2 separate regions of the Homo sapiens genome follow, and region 2 is linked to region 1. The links come from fine-mapping of genetic effects on plasma protein levels. Region 1 holds a variant in brackets. A gene starts in the other region. All regions are shown on their forward strands.

Region 1 (8,323 bases):
AGTGAGGGAAATGTGTATGTCCACATGCTGTGTGCTGGTGTCCGGGCATATGTGTGAAATGGAGGCAAAGCGGACATTTAGGTGGTTGGGGGGCTTAGGAGAAGTGGCTGAGGTGGGGCAATTACAGAGGTGCCCCTGGGGCAGGGGCCATGCCCCCATGTGTTTGAGAAGGGATGGTGACAGACACATCCTCTGGGTTCCATGTCCCATGCCTTCCTTCCCTAAGGGGTGGAAACCTAGGAGATGCAAATGCTTTGCCGGGAGTCAGGCTTCCCTGAATGAATGAATGAGAGGTGGGCATGGAGGGAACCCAGCCCCTCCATTCACCTTGCTGTTCCTCCTTCCACAGCTGGGCTAAGGCAGGAGCTGCCAGGCAGCCAGGTTGGGCTTGGCTTGGGGCTTCCTGTTAGGGTGGGCCTTCTGGAGGTCACAGGGCCTGAGCAAAGAACAAGTGAAGAAAGCGGTACCTGACCTGGCCATTTCTAACCTAGCAACTTACTCTCAAAGTGGGCAGGACCCAGTGATCTTTCTTTAGGATTTCGGGGCTGTTGATGGGAATGTTGTTACCTGGTCTCCTTTCTGGGAGAGTAGGGAGGAGGCAATGCTCCAGACCCACCCCAAGAAGCAGAGCAGGCCTGAGGCCTACCCAGCCTGAAAACAAGCGTCAGTGAGTGCCCGGAGGGAGGGGACCTGGAGTGCCCAGTTCCCCAGATGCTGTTTCCTGGCAGGGCTGAGTGAGAGGCAGACTGGCAGTGAGATGTTGGCACTGAGTGGCTCTCCAGGACGTGCCAGAAAGGCTAGGTGAGGCGGAAGAAGCCATCCAACTGGGTGTCATCCAGAGTCTGAGGAAAGTCTGTTTCTAGACTGGGCATACCTGGGGCAGATCCCCGGGTAGGTGCTCTCCCCTTCACTGCCCGCAGAGAAGGCCAGGGTTTGAATGGGAGCAAGTCTCTTCAGAAAGGTGGGCTTAGCAGTGGATGGGAAGTTTTTTAGCACCAAGATCACAGACTTCCTGGGGGTTTTCCACCTCCTTGTCTACTGGAGGCTCCCATTCTGTGGAAGTGGGAGGGGGTGGGACAGTTGGGACCCAGCAGGGAGGCAGCCTGGGGCCTCAGAGGATATAGCAGAGAGCAGAGAACACCAGAGGATGAGGTTGAGGCATAGGGCTTGGCCTCTATGCCTTCCCCAGGAGTGAGCTCCTGGCTGATGCTTCTCAGAAGCCCAGACACCTTCTCCACCCTGTCCCTGTGAGCAGGTATTCCCGACACATGGGGGGAGACTGAGCTAAACCCCAGGTGGGGTGATTCCTCAGGGCGGGATCTCCATGTACCTGGGGGTAGATTGCCCAATTCATCTCTCTCCATTTGCCTGCTCCCTCCCCAGCCCATTCCCCCCTCAGGGCTACCTGGCCTCCCTGTGCAGTTTCTGGGTCTTGGCCCCTCTGTAGTGTCTGAGGGTTCCCCTTCAGTGGCACCTCCAGAGGTCTCTGAGTTTAGGACTTTCTGTCCCATCTCTCTAACTGGGTCTCTATTAGAGGGCTCTCTTTGCTGGGTCCTCCTGGTGGCCTTTACTGTTCAAGATCTTCTTTGTAGGGTCTTCCAGTGCGCACCCTGCTGTGGGGTCTGTGAAGGAGGATCGCTCTTCCCTCTATGGAATATCTCATTATGGGTCCCTCTCTAGGGTCCCTTAGTCCAGGATCCTCTTTTGGAAATGTGGTCTCTTTTGAGTCCCATTTTCCCCCGCCAAGGTAATCCTGTATCCTACTGATCTTGATAAATAGTACTTCTCCTGTGAATTCCCAGGGCTGGGTCCTTGGGGTCTCCTCCTTAATTGACTTACTGGAGGAGTTTGGATGGGGGAAGGAGGAGGAACAGGAGCACACAAACTAGAGCATAGGCTTGCTCCCGGGTCGCCCACTCCAAGGGCTCCACTCGCACTGAGGCCAGCTGGAGTTAGCCCCATTGTCTTGCTCTGATAACCTGGGTACGAGCCATGATTCAGGTCTGCCTGGAGCCTTCGCACCTTGTACTTTATAGAGCATCTCTCACCTGGAAGCACAAAGACCTGAGCAGGCAGAGGGTCACCAGACACAGGGGCTCTGCAGCAAGGAGGGGCTCCCTGCTCCCTGACTAAAAACAGGCAGAGAAGTAGACCCGAGACAGCCAGCTAGGGAGGCAGATAAGAGACAAAGGAAAACAGTGGGAAGCCAGCGGGCGGGGGCACACCTGGTTTGCCCCAGGTGTCTCTTTCTCTGCCCTTCTCCTCACTGTGAGCTTTTCCCCACCAAGGTTGGGAAAGGGGGGCTGAGTCTCACAGACGGGTGCCAATTGGAGCTCAGGAATAGCATTTGGGTTGGAAGGCCTGATGATGGGACTGAGAAGAAATGAGAGAAGTCTCCTCTGGCGGAGAGTTGGAGCCTTGGCTAGCTCAGAAGTGGGGCCGGTGGGTCCTTTGAAGTCTCCCAGTGGAAGTGCCGCCATCAGCAGGTATGTGCGGGAGGAGCCAGAGGGAGCTCCCGTCCTTCCAAGAACATGAAGATGGACACTAGGAGAGAGGGCTGTGGCTTCTGCTTTCCCAGAGTAGCCTGGTCCCAGGAGGTCCAGGACCCTCAGCCTGCAGCCTGTGGGGAGTGCTTCCTCTCGAGCTTTCTTCCCTGGGGTTCACAGATGTCTAAGGAGGGCCCACTCCTGGTCAAGCCAACGCTAACTTCAGGGTGTGATGGTGCTGAGTGGGGCAGCCAAGGGTCTGCAGCTGGTGTCTGGGCTCTTTCACAGAGCAGCTGAGCCTCCCCAGGGAAGGGAGTGATGGCAAGGAGCCTACTCAGTGTCTGGCTGAGATAACACAGAGGAGCCTGGCCCCACCCCACACCTCTCTCACTCACCCCTGGCAAGTGCTGTCCGACAGGTGAAGGGTTACAGTGTCTCAGGGAGTTTCGGTGTTGGCCCATTTTTAGGCTGAGACCCAAAAGCTCGTCCCACCCATCAGCCTCAGCCTCCTACCCAACAGGAACAGGTTCTCAGTGTCTTAGCATCCTATGGGACTCAAGAAGAGGCTTGATAGGTTATCTCACCCTGCCCCTCCAATCCTGAAGTGGCACCTTGTTGATCCCATAATGGATACATCAAATGAGTAGACAACATGGCAGATGAGGAGGGGAGGGGGTTGATGCCTTTGAAAGTTATTTTTAGACATGATTAAGACTAAATGTCAGGCTAACTTGAAGGATGAATGAGAGCTTCTGTGTGTATTTGATGAAGGTGATGTGGAGAATGGGTGTTGGAGGAGAATTTGGGTTCTAGGCATGCGATTACAGTTTAGCTAAAGAATTACCTTCTTAAATTTCAGGAGTTTGAAATGAGTTGATTCAGAGACTCTGGTCATCATCCCAGCGTCACTGCCTCTTAACTTTTTCCTGTCCTCATGAACACTTTTTCTGTGAAGTCAGAATTTGGAGAATCCTAATGGTTTCCCAGATAAAGGACAAATTACAATGGTGCTGAGACAGAAAACCAAAGCTATTCCTTATAATGGGGCAAGGGGTTAATGGAGGGGCATGAGAAGAAGGCAGGAAGGGAAGCGGACTAGCATCTAAGCCTAAGTGTCTGTTTAATTAGTTCATTTATTAGGTGCTTACTTTGTGCCTGGAACTCCTTTCCTGGCAGTTTTCATTCAGTATTTCATTTAATCCTCACAAAAACCCTGGGAAGTGTATATCATTATTCTCATTTTTAGGTGAGAAAATTCACATCCGAATATGTGGCTAGGGTCCCCTAGCTAGTTAGTGATGGCATTGAGATTAATCCAGGTTTGTCTGATGCCAAATCCCATGCTCTGAATCCTGGTGCTGATGAAGCAAATTGAAACCACCAGTGGGGGAGAACTTCCTGTGCACCTTTCCAGCAGTCTCTGACTCAGGGCCTCTTCTCAGCACTGTTGAAGAATCCCCATGGTGAAGTATGAGCTGAGCAGATCTGCGTTAGGCAATGCCCAGCTCCAGGGGGGATAGTACTTAATGGGTGGGAGAGGGGAGCCCGTTTCTCCATTGGAACAGAAGGCCAGTGGCAGCAGAAGCCCTTTGCAAATGTGTCTGGGCGGTCCATAGTAGTTATTCTGCATATTCATGCATGGCAAACTATAGAGAGTTTGAGACTGCAGCAGGACGGATTGAGGTTAGGCTCAAGAAATGCCTCCCTAAACGCTGTGCACTAGGAGGGGAGGGGGTGGGGTAAGGTTGCAGGTCTTCCTCAGAGCTCTGTGAC[C/T]GACCACAAAGTGCAGTGTAGATTTGTCTGGGGAGGGTTCCATAGAGCTCTAAGTGTTTACCTTGGCGTCTTCCCTCAATTTGGCTGGTCTTGAAAACTCCTTAAACCACAGTGACTCCTGACTTTCTCCCCTATTTCTGGGGTATTCTAGCCTCTAAATCTCTGGATCCCCCATCTATGTCTTGTTTGGCATCGAAGCTGCTACACTCCAGAGGTGTACACCTCGGCCGGAGCCACACACGTTAGTCCTCACACACATGAAAAAGTAGGTTTTCTCCCCTCTTTCCCTGGGGCACAGGTCTACCCTTTTTCCTCATCCTGATCATCTCCAGACCTGGGCATCCGGACTGCCAACTGCCTGATTACCTGATGCAAATTAAGACTGCCTGCTTGACTGGGATTGGCTGGGGAGCTGAGTACGCAAATTGGCTCACCAAGACTTTATCTGGTTTGAAAGAGTTAAAGTGCTGCCCCAGAGAAGGGGGGGTGTGGGGGTCAACATGATTTGAATAAATATTCTTCTGTCTTTAAGGCTTCAGTCTTTGGGTGGTTTAATAAGGAGAGGAGCAGAGAGAGAGTGAGTTGGTTCAAAGTTGCCTCTCTTCTTCCCCCTGCTGACCCCAAGAGGAGACTTAGGGGCCTCCCACATAGGTGGTGGCAGCTGTCTGTTAAGGGTAAATGTTTAATTTATTGAAATGAAGCAGGGCAGAGAGGCTGGACCAGCAGGACTTGGGGGCTGAGCCAGGGGCCTGGTGTAGGTATTCTCTTTCTGTGGGGCACTGACCCGCTGCCATCCCTTTCTCACTGAGCCAGTTGAAGGAGTAGGAGAGAAGGTAAGGATCCCCAAAGGACAGGATCTCCAAGGAGGACAACACAGGAGCTAGGACTTGATCCCCAGACTGTGGGCTGACCTCTGAGACCAGACAGAGAACCCAGGCAGGACCTGGGAAGAAAGGTGAGAAGGGCAAGCCTTGGTTTAAGGGCACTCTTACCTTCCAGGATGGGGTTATTAAGGGAAACAGAGCTGGGGAGGCAGGCGGGGAGGGATAATTCTTTCACTATTTAAAAATAAAATAAATTCCTCAGATCCCAAAGGAAACGAGTGTTGGAAATGGGAAGTGTCCCCTCCACCCCCTTGTTAAATTTTTACCAACTGAGTCCTGGTGATAGAAGCAAGTGGCCATGAATGATGCAAAAGGTGAGAGACCCTGCAGTGGCACCGGGGAAAGGGGAAGAGAAAGGCAAGGAGAGGAGGCGAGCATGGGAGGAGGGGATCCGTGCCCTCAAGCTTATGAATATTCTAATGGTTGTATGTTCGGGAATCAGGAATTTGAAAGTCTGATGGTTGTTGTAATTACACATTCATCTTTGTTATTTAGTTAAAGCCACATATGTCATAGCAAGAAAAATTGTGACCTGTTATTAAAATCAGTTGTGTTTTCCCTGCAGATATCAAGATGAGTGGGGATGTAGCCGATTCCACGGATGCTCGCAGCACTCTCAGCCAGGTGGAGCCAGGTAAGGGTCTTCTCTTCTCGGGGATGGAGGGGGTGGGGGGAAGAGAGTTGTTGGGAATTGTTGAACAACTGGTGTCTCTTCTTGCTTGGTCTTTCAGCCAACCAGACCCCAAAGCTAGGTCTTAGGAACTAAGGGAATTCCCTGAGGACATGGGATATGATTCTGGAGCCTTTGAACAGTAGATATTGCTCCACAGTGGAACAAAACCTCTGGAATTAGGCTAGGAAGAGACCAGATACTTAAAAACAGAACAAAACCAAAAAAGTTCAGGAGCAGCTGTGTTCCCAACTGCTGTGACTGGCAGAGGCAGAACCTGTCTTTCTTAGATGGGGACAAGGCCTTTTAGCCCCAGATACCTTGATAGTCCTACTCAAGGCACTAACCAAAGAGGCCTGTGTACAAATGTTTCTCTTCCAAATAACGTGCATGTGGGTGGCAAATAGGCTCAGAGAGAAAGGCTTGGTGCCTGGAGGTGACTTTGCTTTGGAAAGAAGGGAAAGGATGTCAGTAGTCCCAGCTAGTCAGCAGGCCAAGGTGGGAGGATTCCTTGAGCCTAGGAGTTTGAGGCTGGACCGTCCCAAAAAAAGCTGAGAGGAACAAAGAAGAATTAAAAAAGAGAGTTTCATAGCTCTCTATTTTTACCTCCATAGTTCAAGCCTTGCTTTGAAAGCTCCATATAATTAAAAAGAACTTAAAGATGAGTATAAATTGTAGCACCACCAAATAACTTTAATAGCATTCCAACCAGACCTCAATTAGTCTTTCATCTGGATCATTAGAGACATAGAAATTAGAAGTGGAAGAGAATCAATGTCCCCCAGAGCTAAAATCTTTTTCAAATCTTGTAGAGCAGTGTAGTTCCATTCTTGAAGCTATGAGATTCTTGTCAGGGGCAAGATAATTGGGGGTCTTGGCGGGGAGGGCATCCACAGTATGCATTTGCCATAAACTTTTCTGCTCCCCAGTTTAATACTGAAACAGTGTTTCCTTGCACAGGTAGCAATACACATCAAACTACAATCTTTCTATTTTGCTTTGCTTATGTACAGAGGCAGCAAGACTAAGGAGAATGTGGGCCGGTCACACTCATGTTTCAATAGATTATTTAGCAGAGTATCTTTTACTAAGGGTCTGTGGAGAGGGGCACCTGTTCTTCCCAGTTGAGAAGAAGATTCCCTTTTATCTCAAAAACCTGAGCAAGACTTTAAACTCAGTTCAGCTAGAGAGTGATAGATATAGTCCCCACACTGACACCCTTCCCTAGAGAAAAACCAGCCCAGGAGCCATGATCCAGAGAGGCTGGATTGCCCTTTTCTGGAAGCAGGCTGGCTGGAGCCAATTCTGTTTACCTGGGGCCCATTGCCCAGGTGTGTGGGGACACAGCTAAGAGAGCGTCCACATGGAAAGAAGACCACGCCTAACCAGCTTGCACTGGTGTTCTGTTACTAAGACCAAATCAGGGTAACAGTGTTAGGAGTGAGAATGAGCCACATAGAACCCTGAAAGAGGAGCCAGGAAAGGGAGGGAGTTCAAATCCTGGTGGGGGTTAGGAAGGTTAGTGTGTTATGGTCAATATGAGCAAATTCTGGCTTCCTATCTGGGAGCTATATATAAAGTAGGTTAAGAGAGAAAGAATCCAGACATTGGCTAAGACCTTCAGAATCTGTCTCTTATCCGGGGATACCACCAATTCAATATGTGACCTTAGACCAGCCACTTTGCCTCCCTAGGAGGTAGGAACGGATGAGCTTTGAAGAGTATGGATCTAGAATCAAACAGACCTGGGATAAAATTTGCAGCTCCACTGCTTACTGGCTGCATGACCTGAAAATTTATCCTTGTCCCTTTTGTAAAGGGGGAAAAGTAATGCCCAACTTAGAGAGTGGGTTGAGAGTTACTTGAGATGATGTCTCAAGCCCTTAGCACAGTGCTTGGCACATGGCAGCTGTGATCGTCATTAAGATTCTGGAATATACAGATGGGCATCGCTGCTGAGTACTTCTGGCTCATTCCCCGCTTTACTCAGGCCAGTGCATCAGCCCGGAAGGTTGGTTTTGCTCCCTTTCCCATTTAGGAAAGGATTCTGCACAGGTCCCTTTTCAGCTCCAAGGAGCCCGTGATGTCTGGAACTTTACCACCACCAGGAGATCTTTCACTTCAGGGCTCCCGGCTGGTAGCATCAATACTTAGGTGATCTTCAAATTACTGCCTGTGTTTAAGGGCAAGAAGAAAGAGGTGGCTAATTAAAGTAACCAAACTTCCTGGAAAGTCGTTCTGACTCATTTTCTTTTTACAGAAGAAAGCTTATTATGAGTCACAATGGTTACCAACTTGGTTTAATGGCTTCCTTTGGATTTTAAAAGGCAGATTCACCTTCTCAGCAGTGCATGAATTAAGGGGTGGTTTGTCTCTGGGTTTTAAAGGAACTATAAACAAAGGTGACTTAGAAAGCCCCAGCTCCCTGAAAGCACCCCCTGTGCTGCGTGAAATCCCCAAGGGGTACTGGGGGGTAAGAACTGGGAAAGGGAGGTAAATTTCCCCATCTG
Region 2 (8,323 bases), not on the chromosome of region 1:
GCTCAACGAGGCAGGCCAAAGGGGCTGATTCGTCCCAGGCCCAGGCCGCCGCTCCCCGCATGACTTCCCCTCTGGACACCTGCGAGTTGGGGGCACCCTTGGGGAGGTGGAGGGTCTTGCTCCTGAGGGCGGGGAGGGACGCCCTGCGGTCTGCACACCCCTCTCCTTTAGAGATTTCTTAAAGCTGCGGAAGACTAGCGCTGGCTGGTCTGACCTCTCCGCGGTAGTGGGGTTCAGAAGGGCCTCTGCTTCCCCTCCGCGCAGTAGGGCCTAGCGGCACGGGTGGGCGCCCTTCTCCCTCCCCTCCACCGCCACCTCTTGGCGGCTGGCTGCTTCCCCGCCAGCTTTACCCACGTCCTGCGACGGTCACGGATGCGACGCCCACTCACCTCCCTAGACCCCGCGCGCCCGGGTGGTGAGCGCCTGGCCTCCGCGAGCCCCACCCCGTGGGCGCGCCCTCCCGAGGTCCCTCCCTGGCCGTGGCCTCCCCACGCATTTCCTGGGAGGGTCGCGGCGACAGGCAGGGCAGGTGGGCGTCCTCCAGGCCGGCCGAGAGGGCCAGGGCTCTCTGAACTCTGTGCTGCGGACCCCTACGGTCCAGGCGGCCCAGCTGCGCGCGCAGTGCAGGTTCCGGGCAGAGCGCACAGGGTCGCCGCGTGCTCGCGGTGCGCGCTCTGGGACGAGTCTTCCTGGCGCGGGTTCCGGGACTCGGGCGCGCGCCCTCTGCTGGCCGTGCGGGCTCAGCATCGGGGGCCCCTCGCAGGTGCCCTCCCAGGGATAGGGGCACCTGCTGAGCCTTCACCACTGCGCTCCCAAAGAGCCTGGAGGCCTCATCCCCATTGTGCCGCTGGGGACGCTGCCAGAGATGCGGCGACTTCTTGCTCCGTCCCCCTGGTGAGGCCAAGGCCCTGCCCCCTTGGCTCCAATCGAGGCCCGGGTGAGGCCCTTGGAGGTCCGGCCATGACCCAGGGGACGGGCCCTAACCGGAAGCCACGCCGCCGGCCCGGTGCTGGCCAACGGGGAGGCCCGGGGTAGCCCTTCAAGGGGGCCTCTCTGGCAGCTTTCTCTGGTCGGGGCTGCTCCCCAGGGACAGCATTTAATTCCTGGTATTTCTGGGAGGGCGTAGAGGTAGGGGGTGGGTTCTGACATCTGGGCCCTTCATAGACAGAGGTGGGCTCTCACAGGGGTCCTAGGCGACCCCCGCCACTGCCCTGGTTACTCCCGCATGCTCCTCGGGTATGCCCAGCTGGTCTGACCACAGCCTGCTGCATACCGCTCCCACCCCAGCAGGCACAGGTGCCCACAAGACCCCACGGGCGTGACCCAGCTGATGTGTGGGGCCTTAGAACCCAAGACCTAGCTGGGCAGCGCTTAGATGGTGTGCAGCCCAGGAGACACCAGGGGACTGGGGCCTGGAGAGGGGCAGTGTCCAGGGGTGGCTCAGGCCCACAGCAGCCCGTGCTCCCCGTTGGCTCTGCCCACCTGCCGACAGGGGTGACAGTGGCACAGAGCACTGTGACTGTGATGGGACAGCCAGGGCCAGGAAGAGGGGGAAGCGAGCCTGGAAGTCAGGTCTCCTGGGTCCTGAGAACCCGGGGCTCCTCCGCTAATCTCAGCTGTCCCAAGGGGACAGTGGGCAGTTGTCAGAGGAGGTGACTGAAACCGTGGAGCTGTGTGGTACCAGCAGGCCCAGGTGCACACACCCAGGAAGACCCCTTGGGCTGGGCAGGCAGAGCCAGATGTATCCACCCTTGGAGGAAAGTGGATGCCAACTCTGAGCTTCCTTCCCTCTCTAGGGTGGGAGCGATGTCTCCAGGGTTTACAGGGGAGATTCTTAGCGGGAGATGTTCCCTGGGCTAGGGTACAGGTCCTGGTCTGAGATGCCAGGCTAGTTTGCATCAGGAAAGGGGCCCAGGAGGCATTTCTTCCCCTAAGTCTCTGTTTTCCTATCTGTGAAATGGGTCACAGAGGCTCTGGGTGAGAGGGAGGAGCAGGTGCCTAGAATGTGCTGTCCTTCAGCCTGGCTCTCCTGAAGGCCAGTTCTGTAGGGTGTCAGTGCCCAGGAAGGACAAAAGTCATGTCCACTCTTGGCTTAGTTATGTTTTATAAGCGTGGGGTATGGAAGGCAGAGGGCGCCCCTGGTGTGCTTCTCTCCCCTCAGACCCCATGAGTGAGCTGTGCCACAGCAGCAGGAAGCAGGGGGAGGTGATCACAGGTGGAGCCAGGCCCCGTCAGAGAGGAGGTGCCTGAGGAGCACCTTCCGCCCTGCCGCCCTGGGTTCAGAGTTCCGAGTTGCAGAGGTCTCGGAAGCAGCAGAAGATCAGGTGGGCGGCCCCGATGCTGTCGGGGTCGGTGGCCACACAGGAGCTGGAGCAGGAGCGGGTCACCACGGGGCTCTGGTTGAAGGGGTACTCTGCAGGGTGGGCCAGTGTCAGAACCCTCACTCCCCTGCAGCGCCTGCCTGCTGCTGCACTGCTCCCAGCCGCCGTCGCCTGACCTCACCCTCCCTGTGATCCCTGTTCCCAATAGTCCACATCTGTGAAGCCACCCAGGGCCCAGCCCTCCTCTGACTGTGACCTGTTCATGAATTATTAGGCCTTGTCAGACCTCTGAAGTGCCTGCGCTGAGATGGGAGCCCGAGCCCAGAGGCTGTGGCAACACCACCCAGTGGGTCTGTGTCAGAGCTGGGGTTTGAGCCCCCCAGGGTACCCCGGCCATTAAGCCCCACCCACCTCCAGCGCCTGGTGCCCCAGGACTGGGTCTCTGAGGGGGCTGTGCCACCCTCGTGGAAGGCACCCCTGCCAAGGTGTGGCAGCCTGTTCTGCCCATCCCACCTGCTGCCTTTTGGGCCGGGAGGAGCACCAGCAAAGGAGGGAGGCACTTGGGGGAGGTGGCCCTGACTCCAGTGCACCCAGGGCTGCCGTGGGGCCTGGCCTCACCTGCCTCCACCGTCACCAGCGTGGTCATGCAGGCTGTGTCCTCTGGCTTGCAGCGGGTAATGGTCCTGCAGGAAGCACTGGTCATGGGCTCCTTGCAGGTGTAGCACTTGAGGGCCTCACCTGGGTGAGGGATGGGGGCAGAACCTCATCACCTGACCTCGGTGGCCTCATCCTGGAACCAGGAGGCAGGGGCTGAAGGAGTCTCGCTGACATCTTTCAAGGCCCCGGGCAGCCCTTCAAGGGGCCTCTCTGGCAGCTTTCTCTAACTGAGCTGAGCCACAGACTTGAATGCTGCATCCCTCCACCAAGCCTCAGTCTCCCTTCCTGCAGAGTGGAGCCGTGACCCCTGTCCCAGGGTGAAGCTGGGCTCTGGGACCCAGGAGGCTCACTGAGAATGAGGAGGGTGAGCCTCATGGAGGCCTAAGGAGGCTCTCAGCCACAAAGCACCCCCAACAGCCCCATCCCCCTAGGAGGTGGGCAGACAAGCTCAGAGGCAGGGTCCCCACCAGCCTGCGGCCCACTCACCACAGCCCATGCTCCAGGCTGCCACGAGCAGCAGCTGCACAGCCCAGCGAGAGGCCATTGCTCCGTGCTCAGAAGTGATGAGAGGTAGCCAGCCTCACATCAAGGATTTATACCCAGGCCCTTGGGCACCGGCTTCTGGGCGGTGGCAGAACCGGCCGTGTGAGTCAGGAACGTGGTAAAGGGCCCAGTGGGGAGGCAGCTGGCAGGAACATGGCAGACGGGCAGGGAGCTGGATCTGGGAGCTCTGTCTGAGGACGATGGCCAGGCCTCTGCTTGCACACCTCCAACACTGGGGAACTCACTGTTCCTCAGCCATGTCCAGTGGTCCTGGGACAGCTCTGACAGAGAAGGCCTTTCCTGCTGAGCTCAGACTGCCCCTCTGATGAGCCCCCATGTCCTGGCTGTGCCTCTGGGGTTCACATAGGCCACCCAGCCCCAGCCTGGGGGACCCTTAAGACCCAGGTTCAGTGTAGCCTCTGCCCTTGTTGCTCTAGCCCCGCCTGGCACCCCTTCCCTGCAGCCTGGCCTGCAGCCCTCTCCACAGACCTCTACCTGGTCTGTGTACACCTGATACACACCTGCAAAGTAGAAACCAGAGGTAGGAAGCAGGTGTCAGGTGAGGGTAGCATGGGCCAGCTAGACCACTCTCAGGCTGACAAGGTTGGGCCCAGGAGTGGCCCCTCATCACTGCCAGCCCCTTCCCACTAATGGCCTTTAGACCAAACCTGAGTTTCTTGATTTTAGGCGCCTGACAATAAGGTTCTGCTCACCCTCCAGCCTCCTGGCCTGACTGTGTTGTCTGCTCTTTACTGCGTGCCCCCCACGACACCCTGTTCCACACGCATGCCTGCCTATGCCATACCGCTCAATGACCACATTGCCTGGTCTCCCATCTGATGTCCCACATCTTCCCCATGCTGTGAGACCCACTAAGGTGCCCCTCTCCACAGTCCTTCCAGGTATACCAGCCTCTCTGGTTTCTCTGTCCTGTGATGTCCCAATGGGTGGTTGTATAGATGGATGAGTTGATGGATGGATGGATGGGGGATGGATGAATGGGGGATGAATAGGCGATGGATAGGGGATGGATGGATAGATGGGTGGGGGATGGATGGGTAAATGAATGGGAGATGGATGGGTGGATGCATGAGTGGATGGGTGGATGGATGGGTAGATGGATTAGTGGGGGATGAATATGGGATGGATGGATGGATGGTAAGAGATGGATAGGAAATGGGTGAAGGATGTATGGGTGGATAAGTTGGGGATGAATGGAGGATGGGTGGGGGATGGATGCATAGATGGATGGATAGGTGGATGGATGGATGGATGGGTGGATGGATGGGTAGATGGATGAGTGGGGGATGAATATGGGATGGATGGGGGATGGATGGTTGGATGGATGGGGGATGGATGGGAAATGGGTGGAGGATGGATGGGTGGATGGGTGGGGGATGAATGGAGGATGGGTTGGGGATGGTTGGGTGGATGGATGGATGGGTGGATGGATGGGTAGCTGATGAGTGGGGGATGAATATGGGATGGATGGGTGGATGGTGGGAGATGGATGGGAAATGGGTGGAGGATGTATGGGTGGATGGGTCAGGGATGAATGAAGGATGGGTGGGGGATGGATGGATAGATGGATGGATGGGTGGATGGATGGGTGGATGGATGAGTGGGGGATGAATATGGAATGGATGAGGGATGGATGGGGAATGGGTGGAGGATGTATGGGTGGATGGGTGGGGGATGAGTGGAGGATGAGTGGGGGATGGATAGATGGCTGGATGGGTAGATGGATAGATGGATGGATGGGTGGATGGATGGGGGATGGATAGGAAATGGGTGGAGGATGTATGGGTGGATGGGTAGGGGATGAATAGAGGATGGGTGGGGGATGGATGGATAGATGGATGGATGGATAGATGGATGGATGGGTAGATGGATGAGTGGGGGATGAATATGGAATGGATGGGGGATGGATTGGATGGATGGATGGGGGATGAATGGGAAATGGGTGAAGGATATATGGGTGGATGGGTGGGGGATGAGTGGAGGATGGGTGGATGGATGGGTGGATGGATGAGTGGGGGATGAATATGGGATGGATAGATGGATGGATGGGTGGATAGATGGGGGATGGATGGGAAATGGGTGGAGGATGTATGGGTGGATGGGTGGGGGATGAGTGGAGGATGAGTGTGGGATGGATAGGTGGCTGGATGGGTAGATGGATAGATGGATGGATGGGTGGATGGATGGATGGGTGGATGGATGGGTAGATGGATAAGTGGAGGATGAATATGGGATGGATGGGGGATGGATGGGGAATGGGTGGAGGATGTATGGGTGGACGGGTGGGGGATGAGTGGAGGATGGGTGGGGGATGGATAGATGGATGGATGGGTGGATGGATGGATGGGTGGATGGATGGGTAGATGGATGAGTGAGGGATGAATATGGGATGGATGGGGGATGGATGGGGAATGGGTGGAGGATATATGGGTGGATGGGTGGGGGATGGATAGATGGATGGGTGGGGGATGGATAGATGGATGGGTGGGGGATGAATGGAGGATGGGTGGGGGATGGATAGATGGATGGATGGGTGGATGGATGGGTAGATGGATAAGTGGGGGATGGATGGGTGGATGGGTGGGGGATGGATGGGGAATGGGTGGAGGATGGATGGGTGGATGCGTGGGGGATGAGGGGAGGATGAGTGGATGGATGGGGACGGATGGGTGGATGGGCAGAGGATGGGTGGGTGGATGCATGGATGGATGTTGGATAGATGTGTGGATGGATGGATTTCAGAAGGATGGATGGATGGAGGATGGGTGGATAGGTGGGTGGAGGATGGATGGATGAATGGGGGCAAGATGGGTGGATGGATTATTAAATGAATGACATTTGAGAGAGTTGATGTGTGAAAAAATGAATGAATGGATGGGAGAATTCAGGGATGGAGGGATGGGTGGCTATAAAAGTGGCGGCAGACAAATGTGTAGTGAATGGGCCCTTCCGAGGCAGAATTCGATGCTGGAAGGAGCTCTGGGCTGGCACCAGGAGTCCTGGGTTCTGGTCTTGGCCTACTGCTCTCTCCATTTGTGGCCTTGGTGTGGCCCCTTTTTCCTTCCAGTCTTTGGTTTTCTGTTTGTAGTTGTGAAAGCTGAAGTGACCTGGCCTTGTGGGCTGAGGTGAGTTGTGTGAGGCTGTGGGATGGTTGCAAGAAAGCCAAGGGAGGGCGTAGTTACTGCAAATCAAACAAAGGGGCTGACATGGGTTGGTGCACAGATGGCAACCAAGAGCAGCCTCTCCCCAGGGCTTGGTCCACAGACACACCCAGGTGTTTCGAGAGGAGTCAGAGACTGTCCGGTTCTGGAGCCTGAGCTCCACCCGGCCTCCCGTGAAGCCCATGTCTACTCACAAGGACTCTCACCCCACGTTCTTTCATCTATAAACTGGTCAGGGGAACATCTGCCAGAGGGTGGTTGTGAAAACTAGCAAGTATCTGGCAAAGGATGGGCCTCCATCAAGCTTTCAACTCAGCTCTGTGCTGATCACAGTGCAGGTGTACTTGGGGCAGAGGTGGGCGGATGCTGAGGACAGGGGTACTGCTCTCAGCTGCTGCTCACATTGGCTTTGAAAGGGAGGGAAGTCCTCAGAGGGTGCTCTGGGTGGGAGTAGCAGCCAGCAGAGGGGCACAGGCAGCCTTTCCGCTGTGTGGGAAGAGTGGGCACTAACTTGGCCCATCCCTGAGCCCAGCACCCTATTGGCAGGTGGAAAAGCAGCACTGTGTCAGACACAACTCAAGCAGGGAGAATTTATGCCCTAGTTAGGTGACTGCCCTCCCCTCCTCCTGCCTCTCCATGAATCCACACCTTTTCCCGACATGTGGAACCAGGAGACCAGGTTTTTTGAAGGCAGCTCAATCCCCCAAACCCCAGAGTTCTCATCCATGATAGGCCTGCAGCACTGAGCCAGTTCACACCAAGCCCCAGCTATCTGCCATGTCAGCCCGGTCTCTTTCCCAGAGGCCTGGCCCTTTCTCCTTGGCTACACTCTCCACCCTCCACTCAGAGAGACCAGCTAAAATGCAAACTGGCTTATGGCACTGCTCTTCCCAGAAACGCTCCCTGGCTCTCCACTGCCTTCAGCATGCAGTCAAAAAGCCCCACCACCACTGTTGGTGTTTGATGCTTGCCCTGTCTGGGCTGGCCTGAGGGACTACTGGACTGTCATCTCCTCAAGTAGAACATGTTTCCATTCCTCTAAGAATCCTTCTCCCACAGCCTGGGTCTGACCATGCTGACTGTTGAGCAGCATTTGCTGGAGGATGGATGGATGGATGGATGGGTGGATAGATAGATGGGGGATGGATGGAGGATGGATGGATGGATGGATGGGGAGATGGAAGGGGGATAGATGGATGAATGGGTAGGTGCATGGGTGGATGGATGGGGGATGGATGGATGAATGGGTGGGTGCATGCATGGATGGATGGGTGAGTGGATGGATGGGTGGGTGGATGGATGGGGGACAGAAGAGGGATAGATGCAGGGGTGGGTGGATGGGTCGATGGATGGGGGATGAATGGATGAGTGAATGAATGGAGACTGGACAGAAGACGGATGGATGGGTGGATGGATGAGTGGATGGATGGATGGTGGATGGATGAGTGAATGGATGGATGGATAGATAAATGGATAGGGGATGGGTGGATGGATGGAGAGAGTGATGGATGGGTGGGTGGGCATATGGGTAGAAGGATGGATAGGTGAATAATGTATGGCTAAAAGGGGAGATGGATGGATGAGTGGGTGGGTGGAGGAGGGATGGATGGATGGATGGAT

Which allele goes with the higher level. Alleles are on the strand shown, and positions count from the first base shown. The strength of an association depends on the size of the effect and on how common the allele is.
In carriers of allele T in region 1, the plasma level of the protein whose gene starts at base 3,543 in region 2 tends to be higher than with C alone (weak association).

What was found. PIP is the chance, under the fine-mapping model, that this variant and not a neighbour inherited with it causes the effect. The UK Biobank Pharma Proteomics Project read protein levels with antibody pairs (Olink). The fine-mapping took linkage between variants from a reference panel, not from the people measured, so its PIPs are less certain.
Region 2: it holds the start of SLURP1, and the variant in region 1 is fine-mapped to the plasma level of the SLURP1 protein (UK Biobank, PIP 0.98).

Annotation. Positions count from the first base shown.
Region 1 is chr11:120,240,741-120,249,063 of GRCh38, forward strand. POU2F3 (POU class 2 homeobox 3) reads left to right here. Exons shown (of 13, transcript NM_014352.4): 2 at 5,709-5,777. Among named protein-coding and RNA genes, the nearest start is that of POU2F3, 4.8 kb to the left of the region's middle. The variant C/T (reference allele first, on the strand shown) is at 4,260.
Region 2 is chr8:142,738,864-142,747,186 of GRCh38, forward strand. SLURP1 (secreted LY6/PLAUR domain containing 1) reads right to left here and starts at 3,543. Exons shown (of 3, transcript NM_020427.3): 1 at 3,465-3,543; 2 at 2,940-3,059; 3 at 2,086-2,413. The coding sequence starts at 3,522. The coding sequence ends at 2,280. RefSeq lists an enhancer at 1-92 and silencers at 341-620, 661-740.